Regions from separate parts of the Homo sapiens genome. Here region 1 is linked to region 2. Evidence: fine-mapped expression QTL. Tissue or cell type: whole blood. Region 2 holds a variant in brackets; the other region holds the start of a gene. Each region is shown on its reference strand, or each on the opposite one.

Region 1 (16,920 bases), not on the chromosome of region 2:
TATAATTTTGCTTACTACTTCACTCATCAAATACATCCTGACTGAGTACCTGCTTTGCACCAAGCACTGTTTTTAAGATTCTTAGTCTAGTAAGAGAGGTGGACATTAAACAAATAACCACATAAATAGAGGGGGAAAAACTGTAATCAATGCTATAAAGGAAAAGTATGAGGTACTATGAAAGTGTACAGCAGGTGCCCCTAATTTAGATGGGAGGGTGTCAGTGAGGGCCTCCAGAGCTGAAGCATGAAGGAGAAGAGTGGTCCTAGGGGAGGAACTAGCCTTGCTTCCTTTCAGAGACTGAAGGATGGTAGGTGTGTCTAGACTGCAACTGATGGTCTCATCTTGTCTGTGGTGGCCTGTGCTTCCTAAGATCTGTCAGGGATGGAGGACATAGGCCAGCTTGATCCTGACTGTTGGATCCAGCTTTATCTTCAGTGTTTCTAAGTCCAGAAATCCTGAGTCTGGCCACTTTTCCTTTAGCCACAATAATTCAGAGAACTATTAGCCAGAATAATGCAGACAACTGATCACTGCAAGTCACTCTGCCTTGGAGCTATTGGAATGGCTCCAGAACAGGGCACTGGGGGCCAAGGCAGGATTTCAACCAGGAGGGTTTTACAGAAGATGGACTTCACCTGTGAGGGCTGGGGTTGGAACCGAGCACCAAAGAAGTGGCCACTGTCCACTGATGGCCGTCTCCCTCTTCTCTGTAGCCCTCCCCCACCCCTAAGCAGCCCAGCTTCAGCAGAGGAGGCCTGGGCACAGGAATGGATTGTTGCTAGAAACCTGGCTTCAGCTGGAGGAAGTCAGAAGACCGGGCTGATGGCCGCGCAGACAGAGCTGTGTTTATCCAGGAAAAGAGGTAGGACGTAGGCAGCGGAGGCCCCTGCCAGCTCCTCCCATAAGGACTGCGCTGGGGGAGCAAGCTGCAGAGAAAGCTGCTCCCCTCTGGCTCTGAAAGTTTCAGGGCCTGAGGCCAGAACCCAAAAGCGACCCACAGGTGAGGCCAGCACTCCGGGCGCGCGACGGAGAGGGTCGCTAGCTCGGATCCCAGGGCAGAGGGTCGGAACACGGTGCTCTTGGTGGCTCCGCGCAGGGGTGAGGCGAGCGCGTGGTGGCGGAGCCTTCCGGAGACCGCTCTGAGGGTGGCGGAGAATCAATGCTGCCTTTGTGCTCGGTGGTTTCCGAGGGAGAAAAGGAGTGGAGAGTAGGAGGGGCGACCCAACGGCCCGGCCCCGCCCTGCAGACGCGGGATGCGGTAGGGCTGGGAGGCGCGGGAGCTGGACGGTCAGGGCTACTGGGGGTGGGATTCTGTGTCCCCGGGAGGTGCGTCTCCTTGGACCAGCCCAGGGTGTCCTGAGGTCAGCAGCCAGGTGTGTCCCCTGGCTGCCAGGAGCAGAAGTGAGTCCTCTTCTGGCTTGGAGCGACTCGAGGAGGGGAAGGAGGAGCCAGAGGAGGCAGGTGGGGCTAGGACTGAGGGATGGCTCAGGCCAGAGAAGCTTGAGCCGGGGCAGCCTGGCAAAGGGAGGAAGTCCCAAGGGGCGCCAGACTGGATCCCAGAGGAAAACCCAAGTCTTCGAAATGGGCGGGGGAGGAGGGCGTGAGCCCGCCTAGGGCGCAGTGTCCCAGGGGGGTTGGGATCTGAGTCCTTTTGCTATAATGCGGTTATTATCCTATTTGTCCTAATAGTACCCTAGGGTTCTGGTGGATACTATATGGGCCCTCTAACTGTAAGGTGAATGGGGCATCTTTAGTACCAGTGGGAGAATCTGTGTACTTGGTGACGGAGGCCCGTATATGAAAATGTGACTGACTGGCCCTTTGCTCCCTCCATTTCTCCCCAGCCCCCCAGACTGCGCCGCCCTTTCTTTTTCTGCTCAAATAGGGGTCCGCGCTCCCAGTGGGTCCGGAGACCGGGGCGCGGTGGCTGACCGCCCGGTGTACGCCAGCATCACTCACCTCTGACTCCTCTGCGCTCCTCGCCCAGCCCCGCTCCGCCGAGCACTCCCATCTGAGACGGGATTTGGACCCTCTCGGCCCTGCGGAATTCGGAATTCCATTACCCCACCCACCGCATGTGGCTCTTGGAAAAAGCTGGCTATAAGGTGGGGGCCGCGGAGCCTGCGGCCCGTTGGGCGCCTTCCGGCCTGTTCTCCAAGCGTCGCGCCCCGGGCCCGCCCACAAGCGCCTGCCCCAACGTCCTCACCCCGGATCGCATCCCGCAGTTCTTCATCCCGCCTCGGCTCCCGGACCCGGGCGGCGCAGTGCCCGCGGCCCGGCGGCACGTGGCGGGGCGCGGCCTCCCCGCGACCTGCTCGCTGCCTCACCTGGCGGGCCGCGAAGGCTGGGCCTTCCTGCCCGAGAGCCCGCACACGCGCCGGCGGGAATCCCTGTTCCACGGGCCGCCACCTGCCCCGGCCGGGGGACTCCCCGCGGCGCAGTCCCGGCTGCACGTCTCCGCCCCGGACCTGCGCCTCTGCCGGGCCCCCGACAGCGACACGGCCTCGTCGCCGGACTCGTCGCCCTTCGGCTCCCCGCGGCCAGGCCTGGGCCGGCGCCGGGTGTCCAGGCCTCACTCTCTGTCCCCAGAAAAAGCGAGCTCGGCCGATACCAGCCCGCACTCGCCGCGCCGCGCCGGGCCGCCCACGCCGCCGCTCTTCCACCTGGACTTCCTGTGCTGCCAGCTGCGGCCCACGCGCGAGAGCGTGCTGCGCCTGGGGCCCCGCGGCGGGCAGCTGCGGCTCTCCACCGAATATCAGGCCGGGCCCGGGCGGCTGCGGCTGCGCCTAGTGAGCGCCGAGGGCCTGCCCCGGCCGCGGTCCCGCCCCGGGAGCGGCGGCGGCGGCTGCTGTGTGGTGCTGAGGCTGCGGCCCCGCGTCCGGCCGCGGGAGCAGCAGAGCCGCGTGGTCAAGTGCAGCGCCAACCCCATCTTCAACGAGGATTTCTTTTTCGACGGGCTCGGCCCCCCGGACCTGGCCGCCCGCAGCCTGAGAGCCAAGGTGCTAGACAGGGGCGCGGGACTTCGCAGGGATGTGCTGCTGGGGGAGTGCGAGACGCCCCTCATTGCGCTGCTGCCCCCGCTGGGTGGGGGACTAGGTCCCGGGTCATCCCTGGCGCCCACCCATCTCAGCCTGTAGCCTGAGCCCCTGGCTTCCTCAGGACGTCTCCACTGTGTCTGCAGTCCACATTCTTTCCACCCTGCCCGGCTTGTATTTATTTTTGCTAATAAAATGTCCCCTTGTCCTTAGCCAGATATTTCCCCTTACTGGCACCTTACACGCTCGGGCATAGAGCCTACCGATCTTCCCTCTATCCCGGCCATACGCGGGGGGAAGATGCTCATTCAGACGGTCTGAGTAGAGCAGACCTTAAGCAGTGGTTCTCAAGCTTGAAGGAGCATCAGAATAACCAGACATCAGAAATCCTGGAAGAGCTTTTTAAATATGCAGGGTCCTGGGCTCCATCCCTATGAGATGCTCCTTCAGTAGATCTGGGCCAAGTAGGTCCTAAGGTCCCCGGCCAACAAGGCCCCCGAACAATCAGGGAGCCCTGCAATCACTGAGTCACTCTGACAGAAACCAACACAAGCCACCTTCCACTTGAGGCTGCACAGAGGAAATTAACACTCCCTTCCTGTGCCCCTCTAAAACCCACATCTGTCCTGAAGACAGATGAAATTTCTGGCTCTTGAGAGTGAGTCAGGGGATGTCAGATGAACACAGAGTGCCCTTTAGTCTTCCTTCTTCCCTCTTGCCTCTTCCACACCTGTGCGTCCCTTGAGGGGTGGGGCAAGTCTGGAGCCAAGAACCAGAGAGGTGCTTGGGTACCAAATGAATGAGATATAATGTCCCAGGGATTGAAAGGGGGGAGGTGGGGTACTACCAAAGTGTGAGAACTGTTCTCAGGAATGCCAGAAGAGCCTCCTCCAGCCAGAAGGAGGTGGGGGTGGGGGGAGGTGGATAATTGTAGGTCACATTGTGTTTACCTCTACCTGAATGTCCCTGACGTCAGCAGTGACCTTCTTCTCTCTCCCTCCACCTTCCCAGGAGCCGGTTCCTCTGGACTCAGGCCAGGCTTGGAGGAGGGAGGGAGGAAGTGAGGTAGGCACTAGGCTAACCCAACTTCTTTCTCCCTCTCCCTTGGGCCCTTTCTCATTTTTCATGGTGCCAGCTGTGGCCTGCACCAGGGCTAAGCTTGCGGGATCTGACAAAACCTCAAAAGCCTCAGCACCTGGACACGTTAAATTCCAACACACACACACACACACACACACACACACACACACAGAGACACACACACAGAGACACACACACACACACACACACACACACACACACACACACGGCTTCATTCAGACAGCTCTCCAGTTCCTTCTCCCTTCCCTGATTGGGTCCGCACCACCCAGCCCTAGGCCAGAGAACTCTTGCTCCAGGTGTCCACCAGGTGGTGGCATTGACCAAACAATCCTAAGTGCTAACTACTACACATGGATTATAACCACATGAGGAACTGTTCCAACAATTAGTCAAGCCATTTATTCCTCCCAGCACCTTCTATTAGGGTGTAAATACTATTATTATCCAATGGGATCTTGGGCCTCGCATAGCTAGTAAAGGGAAGAACTAGGACTCACATAGCTAGTAAAGGGAAGAATTCAGGGAGTCTGGCTCCAGAGTGTGGACTCTTAATCACTTCAAGATAATACCCCCCACTGCCAGCTGCTGCCTCCCAATCAAGTCACTCTAAAAGGGGCCTCCTTCCCTAAGATGGTAGCTCTGCAAAGGTTTCGTACCCTGCCAGTTTAAAATCCCATGTTTGAATTCTGGGAAGTCTACCTATAGATTTAGGTCTACCCCTAGTACTGGATTTCTATTTCAGCCCCCAAATTCTCCCATAACAACCCTTGGTGAGAAACTGGATTTGATGCCCATTTGAAAGTATCTGGAAAGAAAGTTAGAGGCCGTAGAACCTTCATTCATGCATTCCTTCAACAAATACTTCGGGAAGGTCCATCAGGTGGCAGGCATTGGATACAGCAGTGATTAAACAGACATGGGGATCAGAAAAGTGATAAAATAAGCCATTAAAATGTAAAGAATGCTACTTGGTGATATGTTACAGAGAAAAATAAAGCAAGAAAGGGAATAGAAAAGAGGGGTCAGATAAAGAGAAGGGAAGATTATAGGGACAGAAAGAGGGAGGGAGGAGAGGAAACTTTTTTTTTTTAACCATAGTACTTTGGACCAGGTCCTGAACTTTATCTGTGTTATCTCAGTTGATCATCACAACCACTCAGTAGAGTAGATATTAGTATTCCTCTTTTTTGGGGTGGGGGGACGGAGTCTCACTCTGTTGCCCAGGCTGGAGTGCGGTGGTGCGATCTCGTCTCACTGCAATCTCCACCTCCCAGGTTCAAGTGATTCTCCTGCCTCAGCCTCCCGAGTAGCTGCCACTACAGGCGCGTGCCACCACACCCGCTGGTTTTTTGTATTTTTAGTAGAGACGGGGTTTCACCGTGTTAGCCAGGATGGTCTCGATCTCCTGATTTGGTCTCATGATCTCGGTCTCGGTCTCATGATCCACCCACCTCGGCCTCCCAAAGTGCTGGGATTACAGGCGTAAGCCACCGCGTCACAACCACTCAGGAGAGTAGGTATTATTATTCCCACTTTACAAAGAAAGAAATGGATCAGATAGATAGGTTAAGTAAGCTTGCCTGGGGAACAGCCCTGGCTGGAGGGAAAGGTTCTGACCTGACTCCACCCAGACACCCCCACTGCCACCCCAACTGCTTAGGGGAAGCTGTGAGGAAATCCAAGGCCACTCCTCCCAGGAGCAGTTCACTCAGCATTCACAGCCCTGAGGCTCTGTGATGGGGGCCCTAGCATTGCTGGAGGAACATCCTGGGTAGCTAAAGTACAGAAACATGGGAGTGAGGAGGTCCTAAGAAACCCTCCAGTGTGCAGATTGCTCTGGCCCCAAAGCACTTCTATAAACACTAGTCAGAGGCCAGGTGTGGTGGCTCATGACTGTAATCCTAACACTTTGATAAGTGGATAAATGTGGGAGGCTGAGGCGGGCAGATTACCTGAGCTCAGGAGTTTGAGACCAGCCTGGGCAACATGGTGAAACCCCATCTCTACAAAAAATGCAAAAATTAGTTGCATGTGGTGGCATGCACTTGTAGTCCCAACTACTTGGGGGGCTGAAGCAGGAGGACCTCTTGAACCCAGGAGGTCAAGCCTGCAGTAAGCTGAGATCACGCCACTGCACTCCAGCCTGGGTGACAAAGTGAGACCTTGTCTCAAAAACAAAACAAAACAAAAAAATCCACTAGTTAGGACAGGTATTATTGCCCCATTTTTACTGATGTGGTAGCTGAGGGCTGAGATTTCCCTCAGGGCCTACAGCTAGTAAATGGCAGACCACATTCTTATAAGTGATTCTGCCCCAGCATTTAAACCCTTCTTGCCACCTCCAAGCCTGTGTGACTATAAATGTTAATTGGTAGAGGAGAGGTACAAGCAGGGTCACTGTGGAAAGTTCAAGGCCAGGAGCTAGGGTCAAACTCCCACTGTTCCTCCACCCACAGTGGCCTTTGTGACAAGAAGGGGGAGGGGTGGGGACTGTGAGATCTGGAGGCTACCGAAGGTTACAGAGCCTGGGCTGTCCTTTTTCAACGGTTGAGGCACAACCCATCCCTGAGTCACTCCAGTGGGTTGAGGCGTCCCCAGGCATGGAACCCCCTAGAACCCAAAGAAAAGTGGTCCCTAATCACTGGATCAGGCATCCCAAGGAGAGGGCCCTCCAAGGATGGGGCTGGGGAAGTGTGTGCCACCGCAGACTACCCAGGCTCCACATATTTTCCACCTTGACCCCCAGGCCCTCCCTGAAAGGGCAGATTTGTGCTGAGCTTTAAGTGGTTTCTGTGGTTTAGGGTTGGGGAAGGAAGGAAAGAGATGCTGGGGACTGCTCCCCAGTTCCAAGCCACCACCACCACCTCCCATCCCTTCCAGAGTGTTTGCCCCCAGCATGGAGATTTCCCCAATAAGGGGACTGGGCACGTGGGGATGAAATGATTCTCTGATCCCTATCAGCCCCTTCCTTATATAAGATTGTATTTGAAGAGGAAATAACCACCGCCCTGCTTTGAAAGGACGATTCTTCCAGATAAGGGGCTGTGATTGCAGCAAGAGGGAGAAAGTTTAGACAAGAGGGGGAACTTCCCATAAGGATAACCAAGGGATCTTCTTGCCCTGGGGAGAAAAAAAACTCAAACTATCCATGCTTAGGGCAGGGGAGAGGTAGAGAATGCCTAGGAAGCATGTGACACTCCTAGGCCTAGAGGTCAGGATACTGTCTTCTAAATCTCCAGTCACTTCCTCCCCACCCTACATAGTAGCACAAAGTGGCACAACTGGGGAGTCAGCTGTGCCTGCAGTGTCTGGGGATGCTCTGTGTCCATCCGCAAGCATTCTACGTGACCTCCACTCTGTGCCTGCAATTGGTGGGTTGTAGAAGAGGTAGTCACGAAGGGCCCCTGGGAGACCCAGAGTCAAGAGGAAGAGAGGCCTAAAAAGGAGAAAAGATAGAGAGGGGACAGCTGGAGAAGAGCCACAGACAGGCAGGAGCCAGCAAAGAGAGACAGAGAGATGGGGGATAACTGAGGAGTTCTGGGGAGGAGGGGAGCAGAACGGCATCTCCCCTGCACTCCCACGCCCGGCATGTTGCTGGCTCCTCCTGTCAGCTGGAGGGTGCTGGGGGGGCGGGGGGGAAGGGAGCTGCAAAGCACTTTACCTCTCACTCCAAACCTGCCCAAGGTGCAGAGCCCCCAAACAGACCAACATCCTGTTCTGTGCAGAGATGCATACATGGATGCGTGGGCCCACATTTACCAAAAGAACACGGGGGATAATCAGAGCCTCAGAGGCATAGGCACATACCCTTAGACTCAGTGCAGAAGGTCCCCAAAACTTCCCCTCCTCTTTCTCACTACTCATCCACTGTCAATGACCCTAGGAGTTGAAAAGTCCTTCTCCACTTCTACCTTTATCTCTCAATCTGCAGCCATGGGGAGACTCTGGGAGCTACCTAAGAACAGAGGTGCTGATGGTAGCAGAGTGTGAAGCTCCAGGGTTGGGCAGGAGTGGAGGATGGCGAGACGAGACGGCAGAAGAGGGAAGGGACAGCTGCTTGCCCTCTCCATGCCAGGTGCCACGTGCACCAGGTGGGGGGGAGTGGGCGAGTCACGAGGCTGTGGCATGGCTGACTCCTGCTCTGCTGTTTACCAGCTGGGAACGAGAGCAGGAGGAGGTGCCAGGGAGCCTCTTGCTGCAGCCTGGCCCCTGGCCAGTTGCTTGTTGGGTAACCAGGAGAGTCAGGCCCAGCTAATCAAACTCTGGGCCCAGGCCATGCAGGAGAAAAGCAGCACCAGGATCCCCAGAAGCCTCGTCCTCTTGGCCCCCTTCAGAGCCTTCACTGCAGGCCTCAGTGTGGGCCACTAGGTCTGGGAGCCTCTCCTTCTCCCAATGAGTCCAGTGCAGCATCTCTCCTCTCCTCTTCCCCACCATGGCTTCTCTGCCTCCAGGCACTCCTCCAGGCCTGCCCCTTGCCCCAACAGATGAGGAGCACGTAGAAGCATCAGGGGGTCAGGGAGTCCTGGCAAGAGCAGCAAGGGTTAGGGGCAGGGGCCGAGCAGGCAGAGGCCTCAGGGAACTGAACAGTCACTGGGAGGAGTCTGACTGCATCCTAGAGAAGAGACACAGTCCCCCAAACCTGCCCTCTCCATCTCCCCTATGCCTGTCACCTGTCTTAGGTAGAAATCACAGGATTCTAAAGTCACAAAGACTTGGGTCCAAATCATAGCTCACCCATTTATTGTTCTTGTGTGAGTCCTTGGGCAAAATCATTAATATCTCTGAGAATCCCTCCACTCACTGATCAATCTGGAATAATAATGTTTCCCTGTGGTGGGTGCTGTGAATATTTACACAAAGTAAAAGCATGGATTTACATAAAGTGTCCTGCAAAGGGCCCAGCACACAGTAAGTGATTAATAAATGCTAGTTCCCTTCCTTTCTCCTGTCCTGTTTCTCCTCAAGGCTCCATGCACTGGTCCACTGGTCTCTCCTCATGTCCCCTCCTGGTGCCAGGACACTCTGCCAGCCACTCCTTTTCCCTGCCTGCTGGAGGGCCAGGTGCTCCCGCCTTCCACCCTCCGCCCTCCTCCCTCCCCTGGGCCCTGCTCCCTGCCCTCCTGGGCAGCCAGGGCAGCCAGGACGGCACCAAGGGAGCTGCCCCATGGACAGGGCCCCACAGAGACAGCACCGAGCCTCACGGGGTAAGAGGCCCATGGCCCTGCCTGCAGGTGGAAGAGACTGCTGGAGGTTCAGAGGAGGGCAGAAATGGCAAGAGACTGGGCAAGAAGTGAGGAGGGGAGGGAGGGACAAGAGTGCAGAGGAGAAAGCCCTGGGTTGGCAGGGAGTGAAACTGGAGGAGAAACAGGAGGAGGGGCTGGGGAGATGACAGAGGAGAAGAAATCGCAAAAGGAGAGAAACAGGAAAGAAAGGGAGAAGCGGGAGAAGGAAGAAACAGGTTGGAGGGTAGATGGGGAGGGAAGAGCCAAGTCAGGGGAGCCAGATCTAGACCCAGCGAGGGGTCAGAATGTGGACAGGCCCTCCCAGGTGTGGGCTTACCCCCCAGGAGGCACAGGGACACTGCTTCCTTGATCTGGCCAGGACCCCAGACAGCAGTGGCCGGGAGGCTGGCTGCTCCACCTTCTGTTCATTCACCAGTGGAGAAACCTGTCCTTTAAGGAGTGACAGACTTGGGGAGTGTGGCAGGGGGAACCACACCCTGTCAGCTGCCCATGACCACGTAGCCTGGTCCTTTCCTCGCCACTCACCCAGGGATGTGGGATTTCATCTCTGCAGAGAATGTGGGGCACTGGGCCATCAGCAGGGAAGGACAGAATGTCAGGCCGTCCTTGGCCCCACCCATGGTCCAAGTCAGGAACCCCCTCAGAGCAGGATCGCAGGGCCACAGGCTTGGTCAGCTGTGAGCATGGAGGAGGAAAGTTTGAGGGCCAGAGCCACCAAGCTCCAGGGCCACCTGGTGGAGGAAGAACTGGCTGCCTGGGTGAGCAAGGGGAGCACCCCCACCACAGGACTGCTCTGAGGTGCAAGGCTAGAGGCCAGGAGCCGGTGCCACGTCAGGGAGGAAGCTGGGTGGGGCCAGGCAGGAGCAAGGGGAGGTGGGCGGGGCTGGGTGGGGCCTTGCCACCTCGGGGCAGTCTTTTCTCCTCCCTCACCCCAGCAGAGCCCAGGCCATCAGGCCACTCGCCTCCACACAGCCTAGTGACCACGGCCTGCCAGTGGGGAGCATCTCCCGGGCAGAAGGGCACTGTGTGTGTGTGTGTGTGTGTGTGTGTGTGTGTGTGTGTGTATGTCAGGTGTCAAGACTGAACAGCAGAAGGAAAAAAATAACAGAATAGAGTCAGAGGTTAGGGAAGCTATAGGGGGTATAGGGCATGGTTGAAGGGCTTTCTGAGACAAAAGACTGGCCATGTGTTCTGTGATGAGCTGCTATGTGGATGTAGGAAATGGGCCAAGGTCTGGCAGGGGAATCCTCTTTCCAGGGGCTCCCTGGCTAGGTGTTTCATAGATGTTAACTGCATGAATGGGTGACACCCCCCCACCCACCAACCATGCTCCAGCTAAGGCCCTCCCCTCAACGGCTGCTCCCCCTGGAGGTCCGAGTATCCATGTGACCCCCATCGACCCACTCATGCTCCCTACTGCCCAATCTCCACCCAGACCCGGCCACGCAGCAGCAGCAGAGAAGGGAGGCCTTCCTCTTCAGGCTGGTAGGCCAGGGAAGCCTGGCCCGTGGAAGCCAGAGAGGGGTCTGTATTTGCAACTCTCCCCTCCTCTTCCTCCAAACATCCTCTCCCCCTACTCCCAACCCCCACATCTCTGAAGCCCTGGTGTTTTCAGGCATAGATAAGCAACCAAGAGATTTCAGTCCCACAGAGATTTAACTCTGGCTGTAGGATATTTCTTGTGCACCTCCAATGAAATTACAAAGTAAATAAGACCAACACAGTCCCTGCCTTCACAGGGCTTTACAATTTGGCAGGAAAGACCCATTTCATAGACAATGACACAATTACAGCAGTTAGGTGACAGTTGGTGACATGGTGAGTGCCAGGAAATAAAATGCAAGGAGCTAAATGTGTCAGCACAAGGGCAGGGGAAGGGGGTGTGTGTGGCTTCTCCAAGGAAGAAACATAATCAGAGACCTGAGGGAGAAAGAGAAGTTGGCTAGATTAAGGGGTACAGGAGGGACAGGCATTCTAGGCAAAGGAGCAGCTTGGGGGAGTCCCAGAGGCAGTGAGGAGCCTGACACTTCTGGGTACCTGGAAGAGGGCCAGTGTGGCCCAAGGGCAGAGGAGGAGAGAGGGGCACTGCAGGGGGTGGCCTGCCTGCCCTTCAGACGCCAGGCTCTGAGGGAAGGAGTGCGGCAGTGGGATCCTAGGAGTGGGGAAAGTGTCTCAGCCCCTCATGATCTTCAACCTTTGACGTCAACCCCCTCTCTTGTCTTTACAGAGCTGCTGGCTGCAAAGAAGACCCACACCTGTGAGTAGGGGGTCCGGGGCAAGAAAATGGCTGGGGCATAATGAGATGGAGAATAATTCAGCAAGTGATCTGTGGGGGGACTGAGGTTGGACAGAGGTGGAGGAGTCAGGAAGAGATGGCAGGCAACAGGAAAGCAAGGGGAGGTGCGAGGAAACCACAGATCAGGGCAGTGGGAGGAGATGAGGAAGAAGCCTGAAGCATGAAAGGAAACACTGTAAAGAAACCAGGAGAGAACAAAGGAAAAGGGAACCGCCTTGTGAAAAAAGGCGAGGAGAAATGCTGGACAGAGGCAGGGAGATGGGAGGGGGTGGGGCCGACTGCCAGGCCGGGGAAGGAAGGAGATAGAGGTAGGGGGGTGTGCGGAGGCGGGGTGGCCTCAGGAACTCAGGAACTCAGCGCTGCTGCCAAGGGAGACAGGGAGCCTGCACCAGGCTTTTTTTTTTTTTTTTTGAGACAGAGTCTCACACTGTCGCCTGGGCGGGAGTACGATGGCACAATCTCGGCTCACTGCAACCTCCACCTCCCAGGTTCAAGCGATTCTCCTGCCTCAGCCTCTCGAGTAGCTGGGACTACAGGCACCCACCACCACGCCTGGCTAATTTTTGTATTTTTAGTAGAGACGGGGTTTCACCATGTTGGTCAGGCTGGTCTCAGACTCTTGACCTTGTGATCCACCCCTCTCGGCCTCCCAAAGTGCTGAGATTACAGGCATGGGCCACTGTGCCCAGCCTGCACCAAGCTCTGTGGTCCTGAGCCAGGTTTGGTGTTCATCTCTGTGGTTAACACATCCTGAGGTGTGAACAAGCCTGGAGCCAGCCTGTGCAGGACTAGAGAGCAGGAGAGCTTTATCTCTGTAGGAAACAGAATGGACAGGGGCACTCTGTGTCCTGGGGCCCTGAAAGCCAGACTACAGCAGGTAAGAAGGGCACTAGAGCTCAGAGAGGACTTCCCAGTGGACGCTAGTGAATAAGAATCCTCTCTAGGGACCACTCAGCACATCAGCTCTCCTCTCCTAGTTTGTGGCAAAGGCTAGTCCCCCAGAGAATGCACACAGTCCCAAAGCTATGCCCATCAGGGCCATGCGTGCCCTTCTGTGAGCATGGGTCCCTGAATCGAGAGGATCCCTCCAGGGTAGGAGTGGCCACACCATTTCTCCATAGCCGTCCCTTGACTGCCTTGCCAGTTCCTCCTGAGAGCTCACTGCCATCTCGCCCAATGCCAAAATTGTCTAGAGCCTCCCTGTTCCAAGTAGAGACATCTCAGAGAGCAAAGCATTGCCCTTCTCCATGAGCTGGGCAGCCCAGGGCTGAGGGCCATCCAGGATGCTACCTCCTCCTGGGTGGGGGTTGCTTTGCTCAGCATAATCCTGATCAGTGTCTCGCCTGCCCCTAGCCACAGGGCCCCACGGAAATGCTGAGCAGGGCCCCGGGAGGAAAGCGGGTCAGGGAGTGACGCGGGTGAGCTGGGGGAGGGGGGTCACGGACCTTATGTGGGTGGGGGGAGTAGGGGGACTTTCGGAGCAGCAGGAACTGGGAGAGGTCAAACCCTATTCCTACCCTTAACCCCTGACCTCAGAAACCTCAGCCAGGACTATACCTCCTTATCCCTTTCCCATCCCACCAGTCCTCGTGTCCCCACCCCAAGAGTGTTGTCCTGAGGATCCAGGCTGACAGCCTCTCCCCCACTCCACGGCCCAGCTCCTGAAGCCCCAGGAAGGCCCAGGAAGGCAAGGAAAGGCCTGTGCCTGGATGAGAGGGTCTGGAGTCCCAGCAAGATCAGACACCTCTCAGGAGTTTGCCCCACAGAATCCAGGAGACATTAAGGCCTCCCCCAGGCCGAGAGACTCTGAAAATTGGCTCCTGAATTGAGACAACCCCAAGATGGGGGTCCAAGATGGGGAACCCGGGGGAACTCCCCAGACCAAGAGGGAGCCTGAATACTGAGGGGCCCTGAAGAGGGACTCTCAAAGCCAATGTACCCCACAAAGCACCTAAGAGGCTGAGAAGGTCTCTGGAATTGTTTGGCCCCTGAGAAGGACCCCCCTCCCCCAGGCCAAAAAACACTCCAGAGAGACTCACATACCGAGGGACCTCCCAGGCTGAGACACCCTCAAAAGCAGACTTGAACCAGAGAAACCCTCCCATCCTTCAAGTGGGATCCGAAGCCAGTCTGCCTGGGCTTGAATCCTGACTCTGCCACTTACTAGCTGTGTAACCTTGGGCAAGTTACTTAACCTCTCTGTGTCTCACTTTCCTCCTCGAAATGAGGATAATGGTAGCTACTTCATAAAGTTTTTTTATTTTTTCTTTTTGAGACAGAGTCTTACTCAGTTGCTCAGGCTGTAGTGCAGTGGCATTATCTCAGCTCACTGCAAACTCCGCCTCCCGGGTTCAAGCGATTCTCCTGCCTCAGCCCCCTGAGTAGCTGGGACTACAGGTGCTCGCCACCATGCCTGGCTAATTTTTGTATTTTTAGTAGAGATGGGGTTTCACCATGTTGGCCAGGCCGGTCTCGAACTCCTAACCTCAGGTGATCCACCCACCTTGGGCTCCCAAAGTGCTGGGATTACAGGCGTGAGCCACTGCCCCCGGCCCACATAAAGTATTTTGTGAGGATTAGATTATCCACATAAAACATCGAGAACCATTTCTGACACATAATAGTAAGCACTATTATTATGATTATGAGTATGATGATGGTGATGATGATCATTATCTACACTCCAATTTCAGCAGTTTGGCTCCTAAGGAAATTTCTGGTTTCCTTCTGTGGATTGTGGGTATTTGCCTGGTGATTATTACTGCTTCTATCATTTCCATGTATTCCCTAGCGCAAGATATATGTGGTGTCTGCAGGGAGGAGCGTGGGCATGGGAGTGGTGGGACAGCCCCCCAGGCTGCACCACACTGGGTATGGCTGTTGGCAGTCCACAGGGTGTCAGGTGGCACATGCCACCACCCCAGGCAGACATCCTGTGACTTACCTCTGAAAACATCCCTGTCCCTGAAGTCACCTGGCAAAGAGGGTCAGGCTTGGAAGGTCCTCGGGGGTAGGAGGAGTAGAAATTTGGCTTCAGGCTCGTGTGAGCTCCATTCTGGCTCCCCAGCCAGAACTACCCTGGCGGGTGGAAACAGCTTTTACCGCGTGTGGCTGTCGCATGTGGTTTTGGAATTTTCCAACGCCCCCTACGATTGGCTGCCCCTCCCCTCACACCCTGCCCCAGGCCCAGATTGGCCACGTGGGGCGCCTGTCATCCTACTCACTGCACCCCTTGGGGGTGGGGTGGGGGGTTGTCACTTGGCCACCTGTGTGGTGCAGAGCTTAAACCCCCCAGTCCAGAAGCACTGGGGGAGAGAGCTAGGTGCAGAGCTTCAGGCTGAGGCGCTGCTGAGAGGGCCTCGCCCCGCCTCTGCCGCCAGCTGCACCCCACTCCTGGACCACCCCCTGCTGAGAAGGACAGGGAGCCAAGGCCGGCAGAGCCAAGGCTCAGTCATGAGAAGTAAGTGAATGGGGCCACCTGGGGGCGGGGGAGCCTGGACCCTGTCGTCACCCCTCTGGAAAGGAGGATGTCTTGGGAACAGTGTGAGCAAATCTGAGCAAAGCAGGGTGCGTCCTGGTCAAGGTCAAGATCTGTTGGGAGATGGGTGGAGCAGCTGGGGAGTCCTGCTGGCCAGGCGGCTCCCTGACAGCAGCAATGGTAAGAGGACTGTTGAGGAATTCCTGAGTTCCAAAAAGAACCTCCAAAAGTATCTGAGGTATCCAGGCCCTTAATTTTACAAAAAGACTGAGAGCCAAGGAGGCCGCGTACTTGGCCCAATGTTACACAGCTGGTATCTGATGGGGGCTGGTAATTACTAGGGGCCCTGAACGCACTCTCCTGTTACAGTGTTTCCCTTGTTACGGTGTTTCCCTCTGTGCCTCCAGCCTGCTTGTGAGTAAAAGGAGGCCAGAGCAGTTGCTGTGCTCTGAAGCAACAGGACAGCGAGAGTCAACTGAGGTTGGCAGGCAGCAGGGCACAGAATCCCCGCGTCCAGGCCTCAAAGCCACCAGGCTTTCTGCCCAATCCAGGGACATGAGGACTATGTGGAATCCAGTCAGGGTGCACCCGGGCACATGCCTGCGTGTGTGTGCATGTGTGTGTGTGCGTGTGTGTGTGGGGTGTGTGTGTATGTGTGTGTGTGGTTCTCCAGGGTCAGTCACCCATTTGACCGGGGAAGCAAGGCAATGGAGATGGGATTGGAAAGACCTCGGCCTCACCCTTTTCCTGGCTTGGAGCCCTGGGCCAACAGTTGGTGGGCAGATGTCTGGGGTTCCTGTGCCTTCCAGCAGAGCAAGGGTGGGCAACCTCAGGAAGTCCCCTGTATTTGTTGTGAAGGGAAGCCAGGGAAGCCAGAGAAGCTCTCAGAGCACAAGGTGAAGGAGGAAAAGGGAAGCCCCATGCCCCTGTGGCTGAGGCCTGAAGCAGCCCCAGCTTCAACCTGGGGTCTTCCCACAAGCCACAGAAGGGAGGCCGTATTGAGTCCTGGAAAGACCCCTGGACTGACAGTGTAAGACCAGGCACTTGTGCCGCCTATCACTGGCTAGCCATATAGACTTAGACAAGCCAAGTCACTGGGCCCTGGTCTACCATCCGCAAAACAAGGGAGCTGAATTTTAAGATAGAACAACAAAACCAACTATGGAGAGTCTCCCATTCCAAAGGCCCAGGGCCAAGAGAGAGCCCAGTGCCCTAAGGCAGGCATCCCCAAGGGTGATGATGGAGACTCAGCTCTCCCAGAGGTTAGAAGGAAGGGAAACCAAGGAAAGAAAAGAATTCCACTTCTGTGACAGGGACTGAGGCCACAGTGCAGGCATATGAGCTGGGGTGGATAAGGAGGGCTGGAGAGAAGAGCCAACAGCTTCTACACAGAGGAAAGGGCCCCTTGGAGCTTCCGTTTCCCTTCTAGCTTCTCTCTATTAGCAGCAAACGCTGGCAGACTGGTCTTCCCAGAGATGGCCCCTAATGAGCAAATCAACCCTGGGATGAAATGACTAGGTGTGCTTCTAGCCCAGCAGCGGGGCAGGAGTCCCCAGGAGGGGCTGAGGGAGACACTTGGCCAGCTCTCCATTATTCCCACCCCCACCACACACACACAGCCCCACCCAGGCGGGGAAGTAGGAGAGAGGGCCTCCTCCAACGAGGGGGTCAGTGCCACTGGTCCTTCTCACTTGGACATTTACAGGTATCTCATAGCCCCAAGTTATCTGACCCCAATGAGTGCCAACCACCACCAGCCCCTCC
Region 2 (13,697 bases):
CTCCTCCCCCAGCCCCTCGCACCCACCATTCTACTTCCTGTCTCTATGAATCTGATGCATGGACTCATACAGTATTTCTCTTTTTGTGTCTGGCGTATTTCACTTAGGATAGTTCCTGTTGGAGCATGTATGTGTCAGAATCTTTCTCTTTTTCTTTTCTTTTCTTTTCTTTTTTTTTTGAATTGTAGTCTTGCACTGCTGCCCAGGCTGGAGTGTAATGGCGTGATCTCGGCTCACTGCAACCTCCGCCTCCTGGGTTCAAACAATTCTCCTGCCTCAGCCTCCCGAGTAGCTGGGATTACAGGCACGCACCGCCACGCCCAGCTAATTTTTGTATTTTTAGTATAGACTGGGTTTCACCATGTTGGCCAGGCTAGTTTCGAACTCCTGACCTCATGATCCGCCCGCCTCGGCCTCCCAAAGTGTTGGGATTACAAGCGTGAGCCACCGCGCCCGGCCCTATAATCTCTTTCTTTTTAAAAACTGAATACTATTCCATTGTCTGGATAGATGGATAGACCACATTTTGTTTATCCATTCATTCATCAGTGGATACTCGGTCCAAACTTTATGTTATATTGACAAAATAACTGTATTAAAAATAGTAATGTGGCTGCGCATGGTGGCTCATGCCTGTAATCCCAGCATTTTAAGAGGCCAAGGTGGGTGGATCACTTGAGGTCAGGCATTTGAGACCCTTCTGGCCAACACAGTGAAACCCGTCTCTACTAAAAATACAAAAATTAGCTGGGAGTGGTGGCGGGCGCCGGTAATTCCAGCTGCTGGGGAGGCCGAGGCAGGAGAATCACCTGAACCTGGGAGGCGGAGGTTGCAGTTAGCCGAGATTGCACCACTGCACTCCAGCGTGGGCGACAGAGCAAGACTCCGTCTGAAAAAAAAAGTAACGTTTTACAACAGAAGCAACTTATTCTCAATTGCTTTTTTTACACCTTAAAATTGAGCTGAAATTCACATAACATAAAACTAACCATGAAGTGTACACGGTAGTGGCATTTCGTGCATTCACAATGTTGTGCAACCATCACCTCTGTCTAATTCCAGAACATTTGCATCCCCCAAGAGGAGACCCTGTCCCCATCAGCAGCCACTCCCCATTCCCCTCCCCCAGCCCCTGGCAGCCACTCATCTGCTTCCTGTCTCTCTGGATTTGCCTGTTCTGGGCATTTTGTATCAGTGGAATCTCACACTATGTGGGCTTTCGCGTCTGGCTTCTCTCACTCAGAATGTTTTGGGGGCTCATCCACATTGTAGCATGGATCAGTGCTTCATTCCTTTTCATGGCTGAATAATATTCCATTGTATGTATGGATCACAGTTTTCTTATTCATTCTCTAATGGACACTTGGGTTGTTTCTACTTTTTGGCTGTTATGAATAGTGCTTTGATGAACATCCCAATTGTTTTTTGAGACAGTCTCACTCTGTCGCCCAGCAGGTTGGAGTGCAGTGGAGCAATATTAGCTCACTGCAGCCTCTGCCTCCCGGGTTCAAGTGATCCCCCTGCCTCAGCCTCCCGAGTAGCTGGGATTACAGGTGCACTCCACCATGCCTGGCTAATTTTTGTTGGCCAGGCTGGTCTGGAAGTCCTGGGCTCAAGTGATCTGCCCGCCTCGGCTTCCCAGAGTGCTGGGATTACAGGCATAAGCCACTCACTGCTCTGGGCCCCCAGTTTCTTTAAGCAAGCAAACAATAATAAAAGTTAATTGCCAAAACTTTTCCTCCAGGCAACAACCTTTCAGGGACCTCTCCCACTTAAAAAAGCACCAAAGGAGATGCACATTTACATTTAAGAAAGGCCCAGTTCAAGGTCAGGTCGTGGGCAGACACCCTCCCTCCGCCCGTGCTGAAGTTAGCTCCTGGTGGGGCAGTTGCTGGTGACGTCAGGATTCTGTAAAAACATGGAATTTCTCCACCCCCAACCTGCCTCCCAGAGACCAGCGGAATTAAGTAGAATGAATGGGCTTGTTTCCTTGGATTTTTTTTCTCTCTCTCTCTCATTTATTTATTTAGAGACAGGGTCTCTCTCTGTTGCCTAGGCTGAAGTGTAGTGGCATGATCTTAACTCACTGCAACGTCCACCTCCTGGGTTCAAACAATTCTCAGCCTCCCCAGCAGCTGGGACTACAGGCATGCACCACCACACCGGGCTAATTTTTTTTTTCTTTTTTTTTTAAATTAGAGACAGGGTTTCGCCATGTTGGCCAGGCTGGTTTCAAAATCCTGACCTCAGGTGATCTGCCCGCCTTGGCCTCCCAAAGTGCTGGGATTACAGGCATGAGCCACCGCACCCAGCCTAGAAATTATGTTTAGATTAATTTTTTAGTGATTATTATTCAGCCAGGCACAGTGGCTCATGCTTGTAATCTCAGCACTTTGGAAGGCCGAGGCGGGTGGATCACCTGAGGTCAGGAGTTCAATAAATTATTATTACTATTATTATTTTAAGGACAGGGTCTTGCTCTGTTGCCCAGGCTGGAGTGCAACGGTGCAATCATAGCTCATTGCTGTCTCGACCTCCTGGCCTCTAGGGATCCTTCTGCCTCAGCCTCCTAAGTAGCTGGGACCACGGGTGCACATCACCATGCCCAGCCCTGTCTCCCTCTCTCACTAATGGGCACCATTCCTTCACTGAGCACCTACTATGTGTCAGGCATAGCCCAGATTCCATCCATTTGAGATAGAGCCCGGCCAAGATAGCTGCTAAGAGCCCAGCTCTACAGAGGAGGAAAGAGACTGAGAGCCGCCTTCCCGTGCCTGAGGTTGACAGTGGTGACATAAGGAACTGAGCTTAGATTTGTCCAGGGCCCCTGGCCAGTGCCTCCCGAGTCACTGAGAGCTCAGATCCAAGCATCAGGGAATAGCAGCCCCGCCAGCAATTCTTGTACAGATGCAGGGAGGGAGGTTGGTGGGAACGGCCTCCAACTTCTGAGATGAGAAACCCTTCCTTCGACAAATCTCTGTATGACTCAAAACGAGCTCCCGGCAAGGTGGCCCGAGTCACCACCAGGGCACATTGAGGAAATGAGATGTCAGGATGTGTTTGCGGTTTGGGGTTCAACGGAAACACACCAGGAATGTGGAGAATTCTGCCCCAAGAGCCAGGATCGGTGCCTCTGAGTTACATTAAAGCCAAGAGGAGTGGGATGGGGCTGGCCAGACTTCTGATTCCTGAGTTTTTTCCCTGGAGCTGGAACATCTCATAGCTCCGAGGCTGCAGACGAGGGCTTGGCTGTGAAGTGTGTCTCTCGATCTTGGGACAGTCCCCAGAAAGGCCAACCTGGGGTCAAGGTTGAAAGTGGAGGGCAATTCAGGAGGCAGCCTGCGGAGTTACAGCAGCCTGCTGAGTGGCGCCTGGCATTCGGTGGGCGAGGCGCTATTTCCTGAATGACTGTGTCCATTTAGAGCCACGTGTCTCGGCGAGTGGCCCATGGACGGATGCATGGCCGAGCCAGAGTGCCTGCTCGTGTGCCAGCTCCCGGACCCTGCCAGAGGGCCCCCAGTTGGGATTCTACCCACTCGAGAGGATGCGGGTGGAGGGAGGCTGAGCACCCAGCAGGGTGGCAGGAAACAGCACTCTCGGTTTACTTTTCTCACCAGCCCTGGTGGGAGGGAGCTGTGGCTCAGAGAGGGCCAGGCGTGCGCCCAGGGCCATGGCCAGGGGCAAGGGGCAGAGGTAGGGGCAGCCAGGGCTGAGGGACTCTGAATGCTGTCTACGCTGCATACTACGTGCTCTACCCAGCATCTCCAGGCAGCCAGGGCCAGCGGATCCAAGTCCCCGTCTACACTACACGCTGCACACTCTACCCAGCATCATCTTGGCCTTGAGGTCAGAAATTCTGTCATCCCAGGAATCCTTGGATTTTGTGTGTTGCTCTCTGTGACTATGACAGGGGAGTAAAACCACTGTCCCCTTCACGGTCCTGACCCCTTGTCAACCAGGTCCCCCGAGTCATTCAGCACCCCTCTCTGCTGCTGCCCAGTCTAGTGGGAAGGAGGAGCCAGCCACAGATCTGGCGCTCCCACCCTGTGAGGTCCAAGCTGGCACGGGGCAGGCTGGGGTGCTTCTATGGGAATCAGGGCAGGCTTCCCAGTGGAGGTGATGCCGGAGCCAGGCCTTGGGGGGCGGACTGGCATCTGCCCCACGGACACACAGGAAGGGCTTTTTGCCATGAGGAACAGCCTGTGCAAAGATGTGGGATTGGGGAAGGGTCACAGGAGTTGGAGGACCTGGAGATGTGGATGGGAGCAGGGGATGCTGTTGTGGGAGGGGTCCTGACTAAAGCTGGGGACACGTGGCAGCCCCCCAGAAGCGGACCTCCAGTGGAGTCCCCACTGGCAGCCTTGAAGCTGTGGGGAGCAGCCACTCTTGGTGTTCCCCACAGTGATCTTGGGGGAATCATCCACTCTAGAAGCTACGAGCCCACAGGAGCCCTCAGAACTCACTAGGGCAACATCCAGAAGAGCCCATGCACATCTCATATCTGCAGAGAGAGCCCCAGGTGCACTGAGTCCCTGCACAAAGCCGGACTGGTCCCCACTCAGGAGCTTAGGCCCCTAAAGGACCTTCCCACTGCTAGAATGTTTTTTTGTCTTTTTTTTTTTTGAGGTGGAGTGTTGCTTTTTTGCCCAGGCTGGAGTGCAATGATGCGATCTCAGCTCACTGCAACCTCCGCCTCCCGGGTTCAAGCGATTCTCCTACCTCAGCCTCCTGAGTAGCTGGGATTATAGGTGCCTGCCACCATGCCCAGCTAGTTTGTTTTGTGTGTGTGTGTGTGTGTGTGTGTGTGTGTGTGTGTGTGTGTGTTGTCTTTTTTTTTTTTGTATTTTTAGTAGAGATGGGGTTTCACCATGTTGGCCAGGCTGGTCTCGAACTCCAGACCTCAGGTGATTCACCTGCCTCAGCCTCCCAAAGTGCTGGGATTACAGGTGTAAGCCACTACACATGGCCTTTTTCTTTTTTTCTTTTCTTTTCGTTTTTTTTGAGACAGGGCCTCACTCTGTTGCCCAGGCTGGAGTGCAGTGATGCGATCGCGGCTCACTGCAGCCTCTACCTCCCTGTTTCAAGTGATCCTCCCACCTCAGCCTCCCGAGTATCTAGGATTACAGGTGCACGCCACCAGGCCCGGCGATTTTTTGTATTTTTTCTGTGGATGGGGTCTCACCATGTGGCGCAGGCTGGTCTCAAATGCTGGGATTTTCTGATGAATCTTAGAGTAGGTCCTCCTTGTCTTTACAAGTGCGTTCTTGAATTTCTACATATTTCTTAAGTTTGCCAAATTCCTCTCTGTTTCTTATTTCTCACTTCATTCCATTGTGGTCAGAGGACATACTTTATAGAATTGCGATCCTTTTCAATGCACTGGATTTATTCTTTGGCCTCTCCCAGGGAATGTTCCTTGCACCCTCAAGAAGAAAGTGTGTCCTGCTGTTGTGTGGAGTGTCCTATAGCTGCTTGTTAGGTCTCATGGATTTATAAACTCCCCATGTTTAAAGAAAAAGGAGGGGGGATGGCGGGGAGAGAAAAAACAAAATGGCTTGCAATGACAAACCATTGACAAAATGTCAATTTTGTGGCAATTGACAAAATGTCAATGCAATGTTCTGTTTACATCGTTCTAGATGATATTATTTATTTACTTATTTTGAGACAGGGACTCACTCTGTCACCCAGGCTGGAGTGCAGTGGCGTGATCGTGGCTCATTGCAACCTCCATCTCCTGGGTTCAAGTGATTCTCATACCTCAGCCACCCGAGTAGCTGGGACTATACCTGCACACCACCGCGCCCGGCTTAATTTTTTTTTTTTGTATTTTTAGTAGAGACAGGGTTTCACCATGTTGGCCAGGCTGGTCTCGAACTCCTGGCCTCAAGTGATCTGCTCACCTTGGTCTCCCAAAGTGCTAGAATTACAGGCATGAGCTACCTTGCTTTTTTTATTTAATTAAATTAAATTAATTTTTATAACATTTATAATTTTATAATAAATTATAAAAATAATTATTTATTTATTAGAGGCAGGGTCTTGCTCTATCACCCATATCAGAGTGCAGTGGCACAATCATAGCTCACTGCAGCCTCAAACTCCTGGGCCCAAGTGATCTTCCCACCTCAGCCTCCTGAGTAGTTGGGACTATAGATGCATGCTACCATGCCTGCTACCACGCTCTTTTTTTAAGAGATGGGGTCTTGCTATGTTCCCCAGGCTGGTCTCAAACTCCCAGCCTCAAGTGGTCCTCCCACCTCAGCCTCCCAAAGTGCTGGGATTACAGGTATGAGCCAGCACACCTGGCTGTTCTAGGTTAAAACGGGGTCAAATCCTGGCAAGCCATGTCCCTGGTAGGAACCCCACCTGAGGGACCAGCTCCTCCTGTGGGATTTGCGTTTGTGGCTCAGGAAGACCCCAAGACCCATGTAGGTCGGTTGGCGTCTGTCTGCCGGAGGATTTGGATACCCGGGCCTCAGTTTCCCCACCCTGCAGAGTGAGGGCTTTTCAGTTTAGTCGCCGGCCTAAGAGTCTCTGGGTCTGGTGTGCAGGAGTCTGTGTCCCCTCCGGAGGAGGCTGTCTTGAGATGGCCGGGGCCTAGGTGGGGAGGGGAGCTGGCTGCGCAGAGCTGGCTGCGCAGAGCAGGCTGTGGGCTGAGCAGGCGGCGGGTGTGCCGGGTGTGAGCGGCACCTCCACCTCAGGCCCGTCCATCTCCCTGACAGCCTCTGCCTCTCTGCACAACCCAAGCTGCTGCAAAACCCCGATTTCCGGGCGGCCCCCAAGGCCAGGGCACCGGCCGTGCTCCCACTGCTCTGCGCTGTTACCCCCATTTCAAAGAAGAGGAAATCGAGGCCCAGAATGTTGCAGGCTGAGGCGACAGATGCCGGCTGGTGTGAATCTGAGCTCTCAGGGAGGCTCGCAGACGATGCTCAGCCTGGGTCAATGGCTCTTAGGCGAGCTGCTAAGGAAAGAAAAACTCTTTTGAGCGTTATCAGCAGCCACGAATAAAGTTTAAAAAAGGATACCCAGGCCAGGCGCGTTGGCTGACGCCTGTAATCTCAGCACTTTGGGAGGCCGAGGCAGGAGGATCGCTTGAGGTCAGGAGTTCGAGACCAGCCTGGCCAACATGGTGAAACGTCGTCTCTACTAAAAATACAAAAATTAGCTGGGTGAGGTGGTGCACGCCTGTAATCCCAGTTACTTGGGAGGCTGAGGCAGGAGAATCACTTGAACCCGGGAGGCAGAGGGTGCAGTGAGCTGAGACTGCACCACTGCACTGCAGGCTGGGCGAGAGAGTGAGACTCTGTCTCAAAAAATACTAACAGTAAAAAGTAAAAAAGGGTATCCAGCCATTCCACTGTTAGGGACACAGCCCCAAAAAACTGATAGCAGGGGCTGGAATGGGTATTTGCACACTCATGTTCATAGCAGCCAAGGGGTGGAAATGACCAAGTGTTCATCAAGGAATGAATGGACATACAAAATGTGGTCCTTCCACACAATGGAATATTACTGAGTCATAAAAAGGAAGGAAATTCTGACACACACTACCACGTGGATGAATCTTGAAGACATTATGCTGAGTGAAATAAACTACAGGAAAGGACAGATACTGTATGATTCCACTCCTAGGAGGTCCTCAGAGTGCTCAAATTTGTAGAGACAGAAGGAAGAAGGGTGGGGGCCAGTGGCTGGGGAGGGAGAATGGGAAGTGAGTGTTTAATGGGATCAAAGTTTCAGTTTGGGAAGAAGGGAAAAGCTCTGGAGATGGGTGGTGGTGAAGGTGGCACAATGCTGTGAATGCTGCTGAACTGAACACTTAAAAATAACCAATTTTGTGCTGGGTGTGGTGGCTCACGCCTGTATTCCTAGCACTTTGGGAGGCCAAGGGGGGCGGATCACCTGAGGTCAGGAGTTTGAGACCATTGGCCAACATGGTGAAACCCCGTCTCTACTGAAAATATAAAAATTAGCCGGCTGTGCTGGCGTGCGCCTGTAATCCCAGCTACTCGGGAGGCTGAGGCAGGAGAATCACTTGAGGTGGGAGGTTGCAGTGAACCGAGATCGTGCCACTGCACTCCAGCCTGGGTGACAGAGCAAGACTCTGTCACAAAAAAAAAAAAAGTGAATTTTAGCCAGGCACAATGTCTCACTCTTGTAATCCCAGCATTTTGGGAGGCCAAGGTGGATGGTTCATTTGAGCCCAGGAGTTTGCGACCAGCCTGGGTAACACAGTGAGACTCAGGCTCTACAAAAAATAGAAAAATTAGCCAGGCGTAGTAGCACACTCCTATAGTCCCAGCTGCTCTGGAGGCTGAGGCGGGAGGATCACGTGAGCCTGAGGAGGTCGAGGCTGCAGTGAGCTGTGATCGCACCACTGCACTCCAGCCTGGGCAACAGAGTGAGACCCTGTCTCAAACAAAACAAAACAAAAACAGTCAATTTTATGTTATGTATATTTAATCACAATAAAGAGAAAGAATGAAAGAAAGAAAATATGGGATGAGAGAGAAAAGAACACGGTGATGGGGCAGATCAAATCACGCTGGAGAAAGAGCTCAGGCTACGAGCAGAGGGTTGGTGAGGCCCCTGTCTCCAGCCTCCTGGGCTCAGTATCCCTTCTAGAACTATAGAGATGACTTCCCTAACTGGCATCAGCTTGGGCCTGTTCTCTGCACTCAGGGGAGCCCCCAGTAAGAACCAGCCCGAGAGGCTGATGCAGGAGGATTGCTTGAACCCAGGGGTTCGAGGCTGCAGTTAGCTGTGATCGCACCACTGCACTCCAGCCTGGGCAACAGAGCGAGACCTTATCCCAAAAAACAAACACAAAAACCACTGGGTCATATGGATATACCACACTTTTATTGATTCATGAGTTGATGGGTATTTGGGCTGTTTCCACCGTCTGGCGCATGTAAATGGTGCTGCCTCGAACACGTGTGTGCAAGTATCTGTTTGTGTCCCGGTTTTTATTTCTCTTGGGACTATACCTAGGAATGGAATCACTGGGACCTATGGCAATTCCATGTTTAGCATTTTTTTTTTTTTTTTGAAACAGAGTCTTGCTCTGTTGCCCAGGCCGGAGTGCAGTGGTGCAATCTCGGCTCACTGTAACCTCTGCCTCCTGGGTTCAGGTGATTCTCCTGCCTTAGCCTCCCGAGTACCTGGGATTACAGGTGTGCACCACCACGCCCGGCTAATTTCTGTATTTTTTTTTTTTTTTTAGTAGAGATGGGGTTTCACCATGTTGGCCAGGCTGATCTTGAACTTCTGACCTCCAGTAATCCACCTGCCTTGGCCTCCCAAAGTGCTGGGATTACATGCGTGAGCCATGGTGTCTGGCCCCCAGGCTCGTCTTAACTTATTATTATTTTTTTTTTGAGATGGAGTCTTCCTCTGTCGCCCAGGCTAGTGTGCAATGGTGTGATCTCGGCTCACTGCAACCTCCGCCTCCCGGGTTCATGCAATTCTCCTGCCTCAGCCTCCCAAGTAGCTGGGATCACAGGTGCCCACCACTACTCCAAGCTAATTTTTGTATTTTTAGTAGAGACGAGGTTTCACCATGTTGGCCAGGCTGGTCTCGAACTCCTGACCTCAAATGATCCACCTGCCTTGACCTCCCAAAGTGCTGGGATTACAGGCGTGAGCCACTGTGCCCGGCCTCCTCCTAACTTCTTATAGGGCACCTCAGGGAACCCTATTCACCCAGCCTCTTCCCGACCCCTTGTCCCTCCCTGTCTGGGATATTCCTGGCAAATGGGCTTCTCAGTTCCTTTTAGACAAAAGCCTAGAAGGAACTCAGCAGGGCTTCCAGGAACCCCTAGAACCTGTGTGTGGAGGGAAACAGGGCAAACCTGATGCATTGGTGCATTCAGATGTTTCTAGGCACAGGAGGAGTTGCGGTGGCCAGGCCAGGCAGACCTGGGTTGAAGCCTCAGCTCTGCCACCTGCACCAGGTCCCCCAGCTAACCTTCCCCTCTCTGAACCCCACTTTCCACCTCTAGAAAATGGGGGTGCTTAGGCAACCCTCAGGCTTGTGGGGAGGTTGAAAGAGATAATTTGTTGAAGGTGCCCAGAATGAAAGCACCCAAGCTCGAGTCACAGGGTCCACCGTTAGCACAAAGTTAGGTCATGCGACAAACATTTTGGCACTGACTCTG[G/A]GCAAGGCCCAGAGGCTACGTCACTTTTTTTTTTTTTTTTTTTGAGACAGAGTCTCGCTCTGTCTCTCAGGCTGGAGTGCAGTGGTGTGATCTCAGCTCACTGAAACCTCTGCCTCCCGGGTTCAAGCAATTCTCGTCCCTCAGCTTCCCGAGTAGCTGGGATTATAGGCGCCTGCCACCATACCCAGCTAATTTTTGTGTTTTTAGTAGAGACGGGGTCTCACCATGTTGGCCAGGCTGGTCTCGAACTCCTGACCTCAGGTGATCCACCTGCCTCGGCCTCCCAAAGTGCTGGGATTACAGGTGTGAACCATTGCGCCCGGCCAGAGTCACTCCTGAGATTCTGAGTCATATCTGCTTGCCATACAGAGCATCTGCTGAATGAACAGGTGAATGAATGAATGAATGAGCGAAGAGGGTTGTGGGGAGAGGGAGAGAGAGGGAGGAAGGGGCCTTAAAATTCAGGCACACCAGCTTTATCAGAGGACACTCACTGTGCTGGCCACACCCCAGGGGTGGGCTCTGAGCTTTAGTGTCTCATTTCATTTTCACAGCAGCAAACTCATTTTCCACCCAAGGAAACTGAGGCACAGGCAGGCAAAGTCGCACGGCTGATCTGAGGGTTTCTTTCTTTTTTTTTTTGAGATGGACTCTCCCTATGTCACCCAGGCGCCATCTCAGCTCAGTGCAACCTCCGCCTCCCAGGTTCCAGTGATTCTCCTGACTCAGCCTCCCAAGTAGCTGAGATGACAGAGATTATAGGCGCCTGCCACCACACCCAGCTAATTTTTTTTTTTTTTAAGTAGAGACAGGGTTTCACCATATTGGCCAGGCTGGCCTCGAACTCCTGAGCTCAAGTGATCCACCCGCCTTGCCCTCCCAAAGTGCTGGAATTACAGGTGTGAGCCCCCGGGTCTGGCCAGGGGACGGGTGTTAATTGGCATTGAGTCGGTGAAGGCCAGAGATGCTGTTGAACACTGCAGTGCACAGGGTGGCCCCGCACTGGAGAATGATTCAGCTCCAAATGTCTTTTGTTTTTTCTCTCTTCTCTCTCTCTTCCCCCGCCCCCCACCCACCCAGAAACAGGGTCTCTCTATGTTGCCCAGGCTGGTCTCAAACTCCTTGGCTCAAGAGATCCCCACACCTCGGCCTCCCAAAGTGCTGGGATTACAGGCATGAGCCACCGCTGTGCCCAGCTCCAAGGCTGATGCTCGCTGGTCTGGCACAGCTGACACAGCTCAGGCCGGGGCAATCGGAGCCACCCAGCCCTGGCACCTGACAAATCAGCTTGAGCCTATGGTCCTGGGACTCCACCTGGGGCTGCCGGGCGTGGGTGCTGACTCAACCGTGTTGACAGGGCTGGGTGCTGAGTCAGGGGTGAGCCTATAGACATCTTGCCCTCTGACAACGCCCCCTTCCTCCTCCCACTTCACACCACATCATTCTGCAGCCTGCCTGGGTGCTGGGGCCCCCAGAACTACAGGAAGTGCCTAGCAGAAAAATAGCTCCTACATCTCTCCCCAGCACCATGCCAATAAGCCCCTCAAAACTGTCACCTCTCCCCCACCCCCTGCCATAGCTGGGCTTGGTGGTCTGCATCTTTAATCCCAGCATTTTGAGAGGCTGAGGCGGGAGGATTGCTTGAGCCCAGGAGGGGCAATATAGTGAGATCCCCTCTGTACAAAAAAATGTAAAAATTAGCTGGGCATGGTGATGCATGCCTGTAATCCCAGCTACTCGGGAGGCTGAGGCAGGAGGATTGCTTGAACCCAGGAGGTCAAGATTGTAGTGATTGTGCCACTGCACTCCAGCCTGGGTGACAGATGAGACCCTATCTCAAACCAAACAAAATAAAACCTTCACCCTTTTCAACCCTTTTACCCACAGTGCTTGTTTCCATAAATAACTCCTGCCATATCTAAAAGGAATATTATGCAGCCATGAAAATGACAATACAAATGTATAACTGGGGGAAAAAACAGCATCGACAAATGATTATAACTTTGCCTGGGGAAAAGAAAGAATATAGCGAAAATCACAGCCATGAAAAGTAATTCAGCCAGTGACCACAAATCTCCTGCTCTAAAAAGAGAGAGAGAGAGAGAGAGTTTGGGTGCGGTGGCTCACTCCTGTAATCCCAGCACTTTGGGAGGCTGAGGTGGGTGGATCACCTGAGGTCAGGAGTTCGAGACCAGCCTGGCCAACATGGCGAAACCCCATCTTTACTAAAAATCCAAAAATTAGTTGGGCTTGGTGGCGCGCGCCTGTAATACCAGCTACTAGGAGGTGCTGAGGTAGGAGAATTACTTGAACCCAGGAGGCAGAAGTTGCAGTGAGCTGAGATTGTGCCACTGTACTCTAGCCTGGGCAACAGAGCGAGACTGTCTCCAAAAAAAAAGAAAGAAAGAAAGAAAGAAAGAAAGAAAGAAAGAAAAACTTGCATTGGGATTGGGTTGTAGAATCCTAGGTGAAGATGGCCCCAGGGTGAGGTTTTCTTTGTACCTTTTTCTGGGTGGCATTTGCCACCAAAGCTTGCTTCGTGGCACAGAGTCACCTTCTTGCTGATAAGAGCAATGATCTTTTAGGAACCAGAGGCGATGTCTCAACCTCAGCACTGCTGACATTCAGAGCTGGGCTATTCTCTGTGGTGGGGGCTGTCTGTACACTGCAGAATGCTTAGCAACATCACCCACCTCTGTCCACCAGATGCCAGCAGCACCCCCGAGTTGACAACCAAAAATGTTCCCAGACTGGGTCACTCTCCACTGAGCATCACAGATGCAGAAGATCATGGAAATTGGCATTTGAGTGTCAGAAAGGGGCAGAAAAAAATGATGATGGGATATTTCTGGATTAGTCGGTATGACCTAGCGCTGCCTGAGTTGGTGTCTCTTACTGAAACGTACAACTATCACACTTTCTATTCTGTCTGTTCTCCAACAGAACATACACGCAAGAAACAGAAACAGCTTCAGCCCCGTGAACGATTTGCCTTTCACTGGACTCAGAAGCTTCCAGGAGAAACCTGGAAGACATTTTCAAATAAGCAAGAAAAATAGCTTGATCACTAAGTTTAAGCTGAACAGGGAAACCTGGAGACCCTTAATATTGTTTTAAACCACCCGCGAGTCCTTCTTCTGCCCCTGCACTGCAGAGGCCAGCTTTTAAAAAGGGGGATCATCTCCCCAGGTCGAGGGGCCAACATTCTGTCTTGGGACGGTTTTTGCAGAAGCTGCACGCAGAGGGTACAGGAGGCTCAAAAACATTCACACCCTTCATCAGCAGCGGAAGTGAGGCCAGGCTATTTACTCTCGGAAAATGAATCAGATTGTCAAATCGTATTTCTGCTTTTCGTGGATTACCAAACACCTCTCAGCTGTTTCCAGGGCTGCCGTAGTTGGGGAGGAGGAAGGATGCAGGGAGGGAGGAAATCCCAGCCTCTGTCGCAACGGGGTGAGAGTGTTTTAAAGCAGGCGCTGCTTACGAGCTATTTTCACTTTCTGGAAACTTGTGCAATGGTTGGTGGTCATGGTT

What was found. PIP is the estimated chance that this variant, and not a neighbour inherited with it, causes the effect.
Region 1: it holds the start of RORC, and the variant in region 2 is the best candidate, but not a certain one, in a credible set for the expression of RORC in whole blood (TOPMed, PIP 0.60).

The regions. Positions count from the first base shown.
Region 1 is chr1:151,824,148-151,841,067 of GRCh38, reverse strand. It overlaps RORC (RAR related orphan receptor C), which reads left to right and starts at 9,266. Exons shown (of 11, transcript NM_005060.4): 1 at 9,266-9,343; 2 at 11,610-11,639. The coding sequence starts at 9,304. It overlaps C2CD4D (C2 calcium dependent domain containing 4D), which reads left to right and starts at 1,248. Exons shown (of 2, transcript NM_001394591.1): 1 at 1,248-1,404; 2 at 1,848-3,250. The coding sequence starts at 2,079. The coding sequence ends at 3,140. It overlaps C2CD4D-AS1 (C2CD4D and THEM5 antisense RNA 1), which reads right to left and starts at 2,791. Exons shown (of 4, transcript NR_152846.1): 1 at 2,331-2,791. RefSeq lists enhancers at 842-911, 1,452-1,501, 9,958-10,645, 11,332-12,017, 15,279-16,214 and silencers at 2,305-2,394, 2,465-2,584, 2,595-2,694.
Region 2 is chr19:16,328,438-16,342,134 of GRCh38, reverse strand. It overlaps KLF2 (KLF transcription factor 2), which reads right to left. Exons shown (of 3, transcript NM_016270.4): 3 at 13,450-13,697. Among named protein-coding and RNA genes, the nearest start is that of KLF2, 10 kb to the right of the region's middle. RefSeq lists enhancers at 11,085-11,194, 13,038-13,187 and a silencer at 11,545-11,594. The variant G/A (reference allele first, on the strand shown) is at 10,164.